Linked DNA regions of Homo sapiens. The protein of the gene in region 3 purifies or fractionates together with the protein of the main gene of each other region. This does not show direct contact. Each region holds a gene or a part of one and is shown on either strand. Other genes may lie near its edges. The genes, in order: ARID1B, SS18L1 and BICRA.

Evidence for each region.
Region 1: the proteins of BICRA (region 3) and ARID1B purify together in Homo sapiens (affinity purification with mass spectrometry, with the first as the bait; one large-scale study listed by BioGRID). This does not show direct contact.
Region 2: the proteins of BICRA (region 3) and SS18L1 purify together in Homo sapiens (affinity purification with mass spectrometry, with the first as the bait; one large-scale study listed by BioGRID). This does not show direct contact.

What each region holds. Positions count from the first base shown.
Region 1 is NC_000006.12:157,203,878-157,207,377, reverse strand, and holds part of ARID1B (AT-rich interactive domain-containing protein 1B), read right to left. Parts: coding exon 3,382-3,500; intron 1,212-3,381; coding exon 1-1,211. UniProt on the Homo sapiens protein: Involved in transcriptional activation and repression of select genes by chromatin remodeling (alteration of DNA-nucleosome topology).
Region 2 is NC_000020.11:62,174,702-62,178,425, reverse strand, and holds part of SS18L1 (calcium-responsive transactivator), read right to left. Parts: coding exon of another isoform or gene 3,695-3,724; exon of another isoform or gene 2,108-3,694; intron 1-2,107. UniProt on the Homo sapiens protein: Transcriptional activator which is required for calcium-dependent dendritic growth and branching in cortical neurons. Recruits CREB-binding protein (CREBBP) to nuclear bodies.
Region 3 is NC_000019.10:47,611,952-47,615,675, reverse strand, and holds part of BICRA (BRD4-interacting chromatin-remodeling complex-associated protein), read right to left. Parts: intron 1-3,724. UniProt on the Homo sapiens protein: Component of SWI/SNF chromatin remodeling subcomplex GBAF that carries out key enzymatic activities, changing chromatin structure by altering DNA-histone contacts within a nucleosome in an ATP-dependent manner.

The DNA.
Region 1 (3,500 bases), on a different chromosome or scaffold from region 3:
TGAGGCGACAGGACCGAGTTGGGTCCCACAGTTGGAAAGGGATCTTGTGCCTCTGCAGACGGGCACACCATCCAGTGCAGCAAGCCATCCAAAATTGGCAAGCAGATGCTTTCCGTGTAAGCAGACAAGTCTAGCTGCCCGGAAATGTTGGCCAACGTGACCAACGTGTTATCCCTCAAGACCTCGAGGCAGTCCCACCACCACTCATCTTTGCTGCAGGCCACCCCCTTGTCCTCATCCTCCTCTTTCTCATAGGTCTGCGGTGCTCGCTTTCTCTCTGGATGCTCGTGGTGAAGAAGAATCAGCTTCCCCAGGATCAGCACCAGGCCTGGATGTTTGGACATTTCGGCATCATTGCCAGGCACGAATGACAAGCTACGGACAATATTGGACACACAGATGCATCGCTTAGCCAGCGAGTCCTGCCAGTGCGCGATGGTACACAGAGGAGTCTCGTCTCGGCTCCTGGGCTCGTCCTCCAGCAGCTTGATGTTCCGGTGACTTTTGGCTTGCTGGATACCAAAGGGAAACTTACTGCTTTCGGTCTGGGGCCCAGGGTTTGCGTCTTCAGGCAATGCCCCTGGCCGAGCAGAGAGGACGTCATCGATGGTTGCTATGATGCTTTTCTCTTGCTGCTCTTCAGAGTCGCCTTTGCCTTCTTGCTCTTTCTTTCTACCTGCGGAGCTTAAGGGGGGAGGTGGGCGCCTGCGAGGAGGAATTTCCATCTTGCTCTCAAAGTGAGTCTGAATGTGCTCGGTGGTGTCACCCCCGCCGAGCTGCCAGTGCAGAAGGCCACTATTGAACTCCTGCACACGCCCCAACTTGTCAGATCGGTCAACAACAAACAGGTTGTTCTTTTTGACTATCTTTATTGGCAGCTTGTCGAACTTACTGGCTTGCTTGGGCTTCTCCTTTGGGTCTGCAGCGGCGTCCGGGGCAGTCAGAGCGATGCTGCTCTTTTCATCGCTTTCTGTCTTCTCGCTGTCTTCCTCCTCATCCTCCTCGTCTTCCTCGTCGTCATCAATACATTCAGCATCTTCCTCCTCTTTCCCAGAATCGTCTGCCAAGGACTGGCTGTCATCCTTCCTTGCTGCGTTGTGATCAAGTGCTTTTTGGCTGGGGTCTCCCACTTCATATTCCATAAGAATTCCAAAAATGTCAATCAGGCATTTTCTAAAGTACTCGACTAAAAGTTCGAGAAATCCAGACAACTGGAGAGGAGGAGGAGGAGAAGAAAGAAAGAACAGGTACAATGTCATGACATCAGATATGACCGAGGAGGGTAAAGATCCTGAGACCCGTCAATACCTTTCCATCATTGTCACACGTTTGTCTCCCTTTTTGGCTGGACCATGAAAGATAAACTACCCTTCAGGTCCAGCGAACTTCCTGAATTTTACAGTATAAACTAAACCGATGTTTAGCATGTTCCTTATTTGCTGCTTCCTTGCTTAGACTATCTACACGAAAACTTACTTTTTATTCTCATATCTCTAATCTTATCACTGAGGGAGTGCCTTGCTGTTCTTTACCTTTCTGTTCCTGATTTAGAGACAATGTACTCATTATTAGAAGAGTGGGAACATGGATTTTATAGACTCTTTTGCCCAAAGTGACTCTGTTCTCTTCTATTATTTATCTGAGACTTGCTTGCCGGGATTTTTATGGTTGTTATTCTTAGGATTTTATGGTTATTTTTGTCTCAGGTACCATAGGTCACCCTAATTTATGTTCTCTATATATCTTTTGGAGAAGATAATTTCAGCAATGTGGTAGCTCATGAACACTGAAAATTAAAAACAAATCAATTTAGCCTATGATAAATAAATTAAAATGTTTCATAAAATGCAATTTTACATTTCAGTTATTTATGACTCTAGCTGAAAGGCAAAAACCACTATGAGAGAACCACTGACTACAAGAACAAGTTTGGTTTCCTTTAAGCAACTGTACCAAGAAAAAACCAATACACTTCACGATTAGCAACTGCCCTCTCTCCCAACACCCCCCACCATGTTTAGGAACTCTAAAGAGTAAGTAACAAGGATTCTAACAAGGATTCTTTCCCGGTAGATGTTCTGGAAATCAGCTATACCTTCATATCCTACTGTCAGTTTCTTGAAAGTAGAGTTGGAACAATTTTTAAGAAGTCAGGGGAAGCCCCCAGCACCAACTAGAAAGAACTGCTTTTAGTGTGCTGAAGGCACAATGTTCCAAGGGCATTTTCCCTTTTTTTTCCAGGGGAAAAGGGAAAGTTAATAAAGCAATTCTGGTTATGCAAATATGTGATCAACAACAGTTCACCTAACATAAGGATGAAAGCGCATTACTCTAGCAAATGCAGTATACAGTTTTTAAATACTTATTTTCTGTTAACACAGAACTCGTACAATGTTTATGACCTTATTAATAAACTTTCTAGCAATTGAAAAATTGCCTTTCTAGGCTGATAATGAGGGCTTAAATGAGAGAAGAAAGAAGTAGAAGATTCTGGTCTTATTTCCTTAGAAGCAAGGAAATTAAGTGTTTTAGTTTTTGCACTCAAAGTAGAGAGTTGTTTGTATACTATAGGGAAAATGACCTTTTTCCATTTTTTATTTCTAAATATTTCTTTAAAAGTCTATAGCCCAGTGGACTCGGGCATTTTCCCCAAACTTCAGTGCTCCTCTCTTCTAGCTATTATGCTGGAAGCTACCTGAAGCCTACCTCTGAACAAAGGAGGGGTTTAAGCTCATTAAAAGTAGTAGGCTTTTACATGACTGCTTCAAAATAACCTGGAGAGAGGCAGAAATGAGAGAGCATAGACTAAGAAGTAAGTTTAGCCATGAGTTCATAACTATTTTAGCTGACTGACAGGTACATGGGGGTTCATTAAACTGCTCTCTCTCCTTCTATATATATTTATACATTCTATAAATGTATAGAATATAAAATTTCTAAATCTTGAATATCTTTTTAATGAAAAGAAGATGTCAAGTCCTCCTGGAAAGCAGGGTTATGTCCCATTGCAACCAACTGTGTTTCCAATGCTGACTCCAGTCACAACTTAATGTTACATTTTGATTTCTTCCCATTGGCCAGCTAATATTCATTCTGAACAATTTAATGTTACTACTGTCATCTATCCCATATACACATACACACACAGTCACTGTTCTCTCATAAGAAATAGAGGTATGTGTGTGTACACACACTAAAGACTACAGTGAATATTATCCCAGATAACTCTACATTGATTAAGGCTGGTTGATAACAACTGCAGTGATTAACAGTGTTGGACGGTCAGTGCTCATCAACTCAGGCATTAGTTCAAGCACAAATGTGCATGGCCTGATGCTCTCCTATCCTAATTTGGTTGTTAGTTGGACTATGCTGGCTTACCTGGGAGAGATTGAAAGTAGCAACAGTGCTGTCATCATACAGAAGAATATTAATAGTGTCCAAAGCCCACGTACTCTCAGCCAAAAGACCTGATTTAAGGGACATCATCACACGCCACG
Region 2 (3,724 bases), on a different chromosome or scaffold from region 3:
ATCCCAGCACTTTGGGAGGCCGAGGTGGGTGGATCATTTGAGGTCAGGAGTTCAAGACCAGCCTGGCCAACATGGTGAAACCCCATCTCTACTAAAAATACAAAAAAAAAAATTAGCCAGGTGGTAGTGGCACGTGCCTGTAATCCCAGCTACTTGGGAGGCTGAGGCAGGAGAATCACTGGGCCTGAGAGGTGGAGGTTGCAGTGAACCGAGATCATGCCACTGTATTCCAGTGTGGGTGACAGAGTGAGACCTTGTCTCAAAAAAAAAAAAAAAAAAAAAAAGAATAAGCCACATGTTGTGGCGCATGCCCCGGAGGTTGAGGCTGCGGTGAGCCATGTTCCTGCCAATGCACTCCAGCCTGGGCGACAGAGTGAGACCCTGTCTTAAAAAAAAAAAAAAAAAAAAAGGCCAGGCACAGTGGCTCATGCCTGTAGGATTACAGTCCCAGCACTTTGGAAGGATCACCTGAGGTCAGGAGCTCGAGACCACCCTGGCCAACATGGCGAAACCCTGTCTCTACTAAAAATACAAAAATTAGCCAGGTGTGATAGTACGTGCTTGTAATCCCAGCTACTCCGGATGCTGAGGCAGGAGAATTGCTAGAACCCGAGAGGCAGAGGCTGCAGTGAGCGAGATCGTGCCACTGCACTCCAGCCTGGGCAACAGAGCAAGACTCCATCTCAAAAACAACAACAAAAAACAACATGAAGAAGAGAAACTAGAGAGCCTGTGCCCCACAAGGCCACAAGGCAGAATTCCTTGGGCAGCAAAACGGAGCATCGGACCTGTGGTGAAAGCCACTCGGGAGACTGCCACAGGGGAAGACAACGGATCATCATCTGCATGCCTGTTCTCCATGTGTCCCCAGCTAGTTAATGATCAGATTTCCCGAATGCCCCCAGCGAGGAAGTGGGGGAGGGAGGAAAGCTGTTCCAGCCTGACCGAACACGTCACATTCTCATTCCCAGAGCTGCCTGTGATGATTCTAGTTAGTGGGAGTCTGTTCTGATGTCTTTCTGCTCCTGCACCATTGGGTAAGACGGAAAGCCTCAAATCCAGAGCTGCTCAGCTGAAGGCATGGCAGCCCTGGAGCCCTATAAAACCACTGGCAGCCCCAATGCCTCAGCACCTTTTTTTTTTTTTTGAGACAGAGTTTCGCTCTTGTTGCCCATGCTGGAATACAATGGCGCGATCTCAGCTCACTGCAACCTCCGTCTCTATCTGCTCCCGCCCGCCTCTGCTTTCCAAAGTGCTATAGGCGTGAGCCACAGCGCCTGGCCGCCTCAGCACATGTTTAAGTGTAGCCCAGTGGTTCTCAAACGGAGACAGTTTTGCCCCTGGGGCATCTGACAATGTCTGGAGTCATTTTAAATTGTCAGACTGGGCAATGGGGGTGCTACTGGCATCGTGGTGGAGGCCAGGGGTGCTGCAAACATAACACAGTGTGCACAATGGCCCCTAGGAGACGCCCAGCGCCGGCAGTGCTGTGCCAAAGCGCCACGGCCAGCTACACTGGATGCTGACTAAAGGCTATCTTAATATTTTGCAGTTAGATGGACACATTTCCCCCCAGATGTGAAATTCTATTCTCTATCTTCCCCATTGCTCTGTGTCTTTTTCTTTTTTTTGAGATGGAGTCTCTCTGTCGCCCAGGCTGGGGTGCAGTGGCGTGATCTCAACTCACCTCTGCCTTCCCGGTTCAAGCGATTCTCCCACCTCAGCTTCCCCAATAGCTGGGCTTACAGGCACCCGGCTAATTTTTGTATTTTTAGCAGAGATGGGGTTTCACCATGTTGGCCAGGCTGCTCTCCAACTCCTGACTGCAGGTGATCTACCCGCCTCAGCCTCCCAAAGTGCTGGAATTACAGGTGTAAGCCCCCACGCCTGGCCTTTCTTTTTCCTTTTTTTAAGACAAAGTCTCGCTCTCTGTAGCCCAGGCTGGAGTGTAATGGTGCAATCACGACTCACTACAGCCTCGACCTCCTGGGCTCAAGGGATCCTCGTGCCTCAGCCTTCCAAGTAGCTGGGATTACAGGCATGCACCACCATGCCTGACTACTTTATTTTTTGTAGAGACAGGTCTTGCTATGTTACCCTGGCTGGTCTCAAACTCCTGGGCTCTAGTGATCCTCCTGCCTTGGCCTCCCAAAGTGCTGGGATTACAGGCATGGGCCACCACGACCGGTCACGGTCTTTTCATAGGTAGGTATAAAGTTATATGTCCTCTGGTTCAGTCTTATAATTAAGTTAGGACATTCACTTATTTCACAAAATCCAAATAAGTTATTTTCAGGACTGTATGAAGGAGGTATGGCGTCTCATCAGAATCATTCACATATAATTCTAATTTAACATCAGGATGCAGACTGCTGTCCTTCCAGACTCCAGCATGACACTCCTGTGCAAACCTGGAGGGCCAAGCTGGGGCCTGCTCCCCGCTGACCAGCGCCCAGCACACACTGGGGAGAGGCGGCCCCTGCGTCGGCTACAGTGGCCTCACAGTGTCCTGAGAGCACACCAGAGCCCTCCTGACATCTGTGTAAATGCCTCATCAGCGTGCCCTTCCCAGGCATGGCCGAGTACGGTGCCCTGGCAGGGAGACTGTGTTACATGGTCTTTAGGCTTCTCTACATCTACCTGGTGACCCTTTGCCCTCTTGAAGAAGGAGGACGAGAAGCATTTAAAAAACAGTCTTTGGCCTCTTACCTACCCAATTCCCTGAGAAAAACAAACTTGAGCGATGTAGTGCTTTGAAATTTCACTGGCAGTGTAAAGTGTCCCTAACACCTCCAGCCACCTCAGAGTCACCAACACAGAGCCACTTCCTGCTAAGGACTCTCTCAAAGGAGGCTCCAAAAAATGTCCCAGACCATTCTCCTTCATATGCCCTGTGCTCCAGCCACCGAGCCTCCTTCAGGCTGCCTTCACTGGGACAAACCTCCTGGTGCCTCAGGACCTTGGCACGCCCTCTTCCCTTGCCTGGCTCATTCTCCTCTAGGAGGCCCTCGCTCCTGCAGTGCTCCCACCACACAGACCCTGTCCTCCTCCAGGGGCCCCATCCCACTCAGAGGGAAAGCGATGTCTGCTTTATGGAGGCCCCTACGCCCACCTGTCCCTGTCACCTCCCGCCACACCGGCCTCCTCACTGTCCCGAGAGCTCCCGCTCTTCCATCTTCCAAGCTGCTCTTTCCTCAGCTCCTTCAAAGCCCTGCTCACTGTTCCTGGGCAGAAAGGGCTTCCCCCTCCCTAGGCTGAGCCTGGGGCTGCCAGCCACTCCCCGCTGTGTCTTCGTCCTGGAATTGCCCACACGGGCCAAATGCGGTCGCCTGCGCCCCCATCTGGAAGGCGGGCTCCATTTGGGGCCCCCCGCTCTGTCCTCAGCACAGTCTGGCCCTGTGGGACCACCTTATGTCTCTGTAGCGAGACATAAGCTCTAAAAGTGCAGGGTTCGTGTCGCGGCCACACACCAAGCACTCAGCAGAGACCGGACGCGTACCCAGTACGTGACAAACACTGGCAGAGTGAATGAATGTGAGAACCAGGCGTGCAGATCTAACGGTGAGCTTAGGGTATGAAAAGCCAGCTGGATGACTGAGGTGAGCGTATACACAGAGGCAATTCTGCAAAACCTTACAGGCTCAGAGACTTAACGTTCTGGAAGGAACCCTGGAAGCCAGTTAGTTCCAGCTCATTATTCCTCATGGCCATAAGAGAAATCTTC
Region 3 (3,724 bases):
GACACTGACTGACAAGGCTACCTTGGCACTTTATGGGTGTTTGGGGACCCTCACAAGAGCCTTACCAAGTAGGTACTGATATGAACCCACTTAATAGAGGGGAAAACCAAGGCCCCAAGCAAGTCCCCTGTCCACAGCCATTCAGCCAGCAAATAGCAGAACTGGGATTAGAACCAACAGGCAGGGCCCAGAGCCCACGCTCCTGACCTCCACACCAGGTGGCAAGCACATGACGCAGGCCATAAGCAGGAGGAAGAGGCAAGGAGGTCATCAGACACAAGGAGGTCACCTGAGGCAAAGACACGTGCAGCCTGGAGATGCTGCCTGGGCGACAGGTGGGATCACATTGAAGAGGAGAGAAAGAGAACAACTTTCTTCAAGGTGCAGCATGAGGGGCCGGGCACGGTGGCTCACGCCTGTAATCCCAGCACATTGGGAGGCCAAGGCGGGAGGAGTGCTTGAACAGGATTTCAAGACCAGCCTGGGCAACACAGTGAGACCTCGTCTTTACCAAAAATATTAAAACTCCCTGGGCGTGGTGGCGTGCACCTGTAGTCCCAGCTACTGGGGAGGCTGAGATGCGAGGCTCACTTGAGCCCAGGAAGGATAATGCTGCAGTGAAAAGTGATGGCGCCACTGCACTCCAGCCTGGGTGACACAGCAAGATTCTGTCTCAAAAAAATAAAAAAAGATGCAACGTGCAACATCAAAGGTGCTCCGTAAGAGCTACCAAAAGACAAATCACTGGCCCTTGATCTAGCAATCCCACTTCCAGGAGTCTATCCCACAGGCGTACTCATTTCCCTGTAACATGTGCGGACGTATGCCTTCCCATGCTTCACACAGAAACCTTTGGAAACACCTCCACGTCCATAACAGTAAAGGAGGATTCACCCACACAGAGGAATACCATGCAGCCAAGAAAAAGATAGAGGAAGACCTACATTGGTAGGGTCTCCCAGGGAGATGAAGCGTGGAAAAAAAGCAATGCATAGACCAGACTACCATCTGTGTAAGATGAATAGTTTTTTGTTTGTCTGTTTGTTTGTTTTAGACAGAGTCTCGCTGTGTCGCCCAGGCTGGAGTGGAGTGCAGTGCTACCGCAATCTCGGCTCACCGCAACCTCCGCCTCCTGCATTCAAGCAATTCCCCTGCCTCAGGCTCCTGAGTAGCTGGGATTACAGCCATGCACCACCATGCCCAGCTCATTTTTGTATTTTTAGGAGAGATGGGGTTTCACCATGTTGGCCAGGCTGGTCTTGAACTCCTGACCGCAGGTGATCTGCCCACTTCAGCCTCCCAAAGTGCTGGGATTACAGGCGTGAGCCACCATGCCCGGCCTGAATAGTTTTAAACACATAACATCCATATATAAAAGTACATGCACAGAACATCAGAATGGAGGTGCTGTCTCTGGGGAAGAGAGCTAGGGGACCAGGGATTCTGGAGAGGTTAGAGGGAGAGACACCATCTTTAGTGTTCTGAATTTGCCCCGTGTGTGTATCACTTAGAACAAAAGGAACAAAAGGCAGACAGAGAAAAAGATGATGTCTCAGACCACCCAGACAGAATGAATGAAACCCCACAGCGGCTAATCCAACCGTTCTCTCTCCTCCTCCTGGACTGTGTCCCAAGGTCTTAACTGATCCCCAGGGCCCTGTCACACAGTAGGCCCTCAGGAAGTTTAATTGGGAACAATTAAAGAAACAAAGGCCTTCTCTGCTTGTGCCAACACTCCTTTCCCCCTCCCCCCAATGAATACATACACTCATACACAAAACTAATTGTCACCAAACTAGAAATGCCTTAGAAAACTCTCCCTCTCCACTGGGGAAACTTGCGTGTCACTGAGACACAAAAGCTTCAGTCAACTGGGACAAAACTCTACTGGTGGTACTCCAGGCAGAGGAGAATGCGAGGGACGGAACCAGGAGACACTCCCTGGGGACCCCTCAACCAAACGCTCCCCATGCGTCTCTAGTGTGGCATAAGGTGCATCCTACCAGGGAGCTAGCTCAGACAAGACAGGGGACAAAAAACCAGAGGGATATGAAGGGGTGAGTAAGGAGGGGGCAATTCTTCTGCTGGGGGAGCAGGCAGCAGTTGTCATCGTGGACACGGCACGGGTGACTGCTCTTGTTTCTACTAAGTGAGGGTGCCTGGTCGGGGAAGAAAGCTCAAATATGACCAGGGCAAGATAACCATACTCCCCACCCCTCTCCCCTGCAGGGCGGGAGAAGGGAAATGGCAGCCCCTCTGCCTTCCAAGCCCAGGCGGCCTGGAAAGGAATGCCATGTTTTCCTGTTTCCAATTAACTTCCCCTACCAGCAGCCTTCTGCATTCTTGAGACCTGGAGTCAAGGCAGCCTGGCGGGTGGGGGTTGAGAGCTGGCGGGGGAACTGGGCTGCTGGCTAGACCTGGGCTACAAGGTGGCCCACGGGAACCTGGGGAGCCTTATACACCCCCAGGAACTCCCCCTTCATAGGCCTCTGGGTGCTGATCCCCTGGCCCTTCCACAGCCTGGGGCACACCCCACCTCCTGAAGGAAGGTTAGGGAAGGGCCACAGGCCTCTGAGAAGGAAGTCAGCCGGGAGACCCTCTAGGGCCTCACTCGGACTTCTCCCACCAGCCCCCCAAAAAGATCAGTTCCTACATTCAGCCAGCACTCAATCTTGAGAGATCTGGGTGTCCCCACAGCCCCTCTCCTCCTGCCCACCTCCCCCGAGAATTCTTATTACTTATGCCTGTCATCTCGCCAAGGGAAATAACTGCACTTAAAGGAGGGGACAGTGGCTGCGGGGATAAGGGGTCCCTTAAAGCTCCTGGGATCAGACCCCATGAAGCACCATCTCCCCAGTTCTGTTGACAAATACGGAACCCCCACCACTAGTCTCTGCCGTCTGGCTTGGAGTCCCAGCTCGGCCGTGGAACATGCTTCCCCTGGCCTCAGTTTCCCCATCTGTAAAATGGCAAGATCACCTGTATTACCTCCTACACTGGGTGAGCTGGGTCCAGCCCCTCTCCGTCAGCCCCCCAGCCCCTCTCCCTCAGCCCCCCAGCCCCTACAGCTAAGCATGTATTCCGCATGGGTAAAGTGCTGAAGGGGTAGGGGCCTAGTCCCCAAAGCGCTCAGAGGGTGCGTGTCACTGAAGGGGAATTGTTCGTTTGCAGGTGGCCTTCCCAGACCACAGGGAATTCTTCTGGGGCAAAGGTATTCTGCCACTCACCTTTACATTTTTTATTTTATTTATTTTTTTTTTTTGAGACAGGGTCTCACTCTTGCCCAGGCTTGAGAGCAGTGGCACAATCACGGCTCACCCCAGCTTCAAACTCCTAGGCTCAAGCAATCCTCCCACCTCAGCACCCCCAAGTAGCTAGGACCACAGGTGAGTGCCACCATGCCCAACTAATTTTTTCATTTTTTGTAGACACAGGGTCTCACCGTGTTGCCTAGGCTGGTCTTAAAATCCAGGGCTCAAGCAATCCTCCAGCCTCGGTCTCCCCAAGTGTTGGGGTTACAGGTGTGAGCCATGGCACCTGGCCTTAAATTTAAATGCCAGTCAGATTACCTGAGGTCAGGACCTCAAGACCAGCCTGGCCAATATGGTGAAATCCCGTCTTTACTAAATATACAAAATTTAGCCAGGTGTGGTGGTGGGTGCCTGTAATCCCAGCTACTCGGGACGCTGAGGCAGGACAATCGCTTGAACCTGGGAGGCAGAGG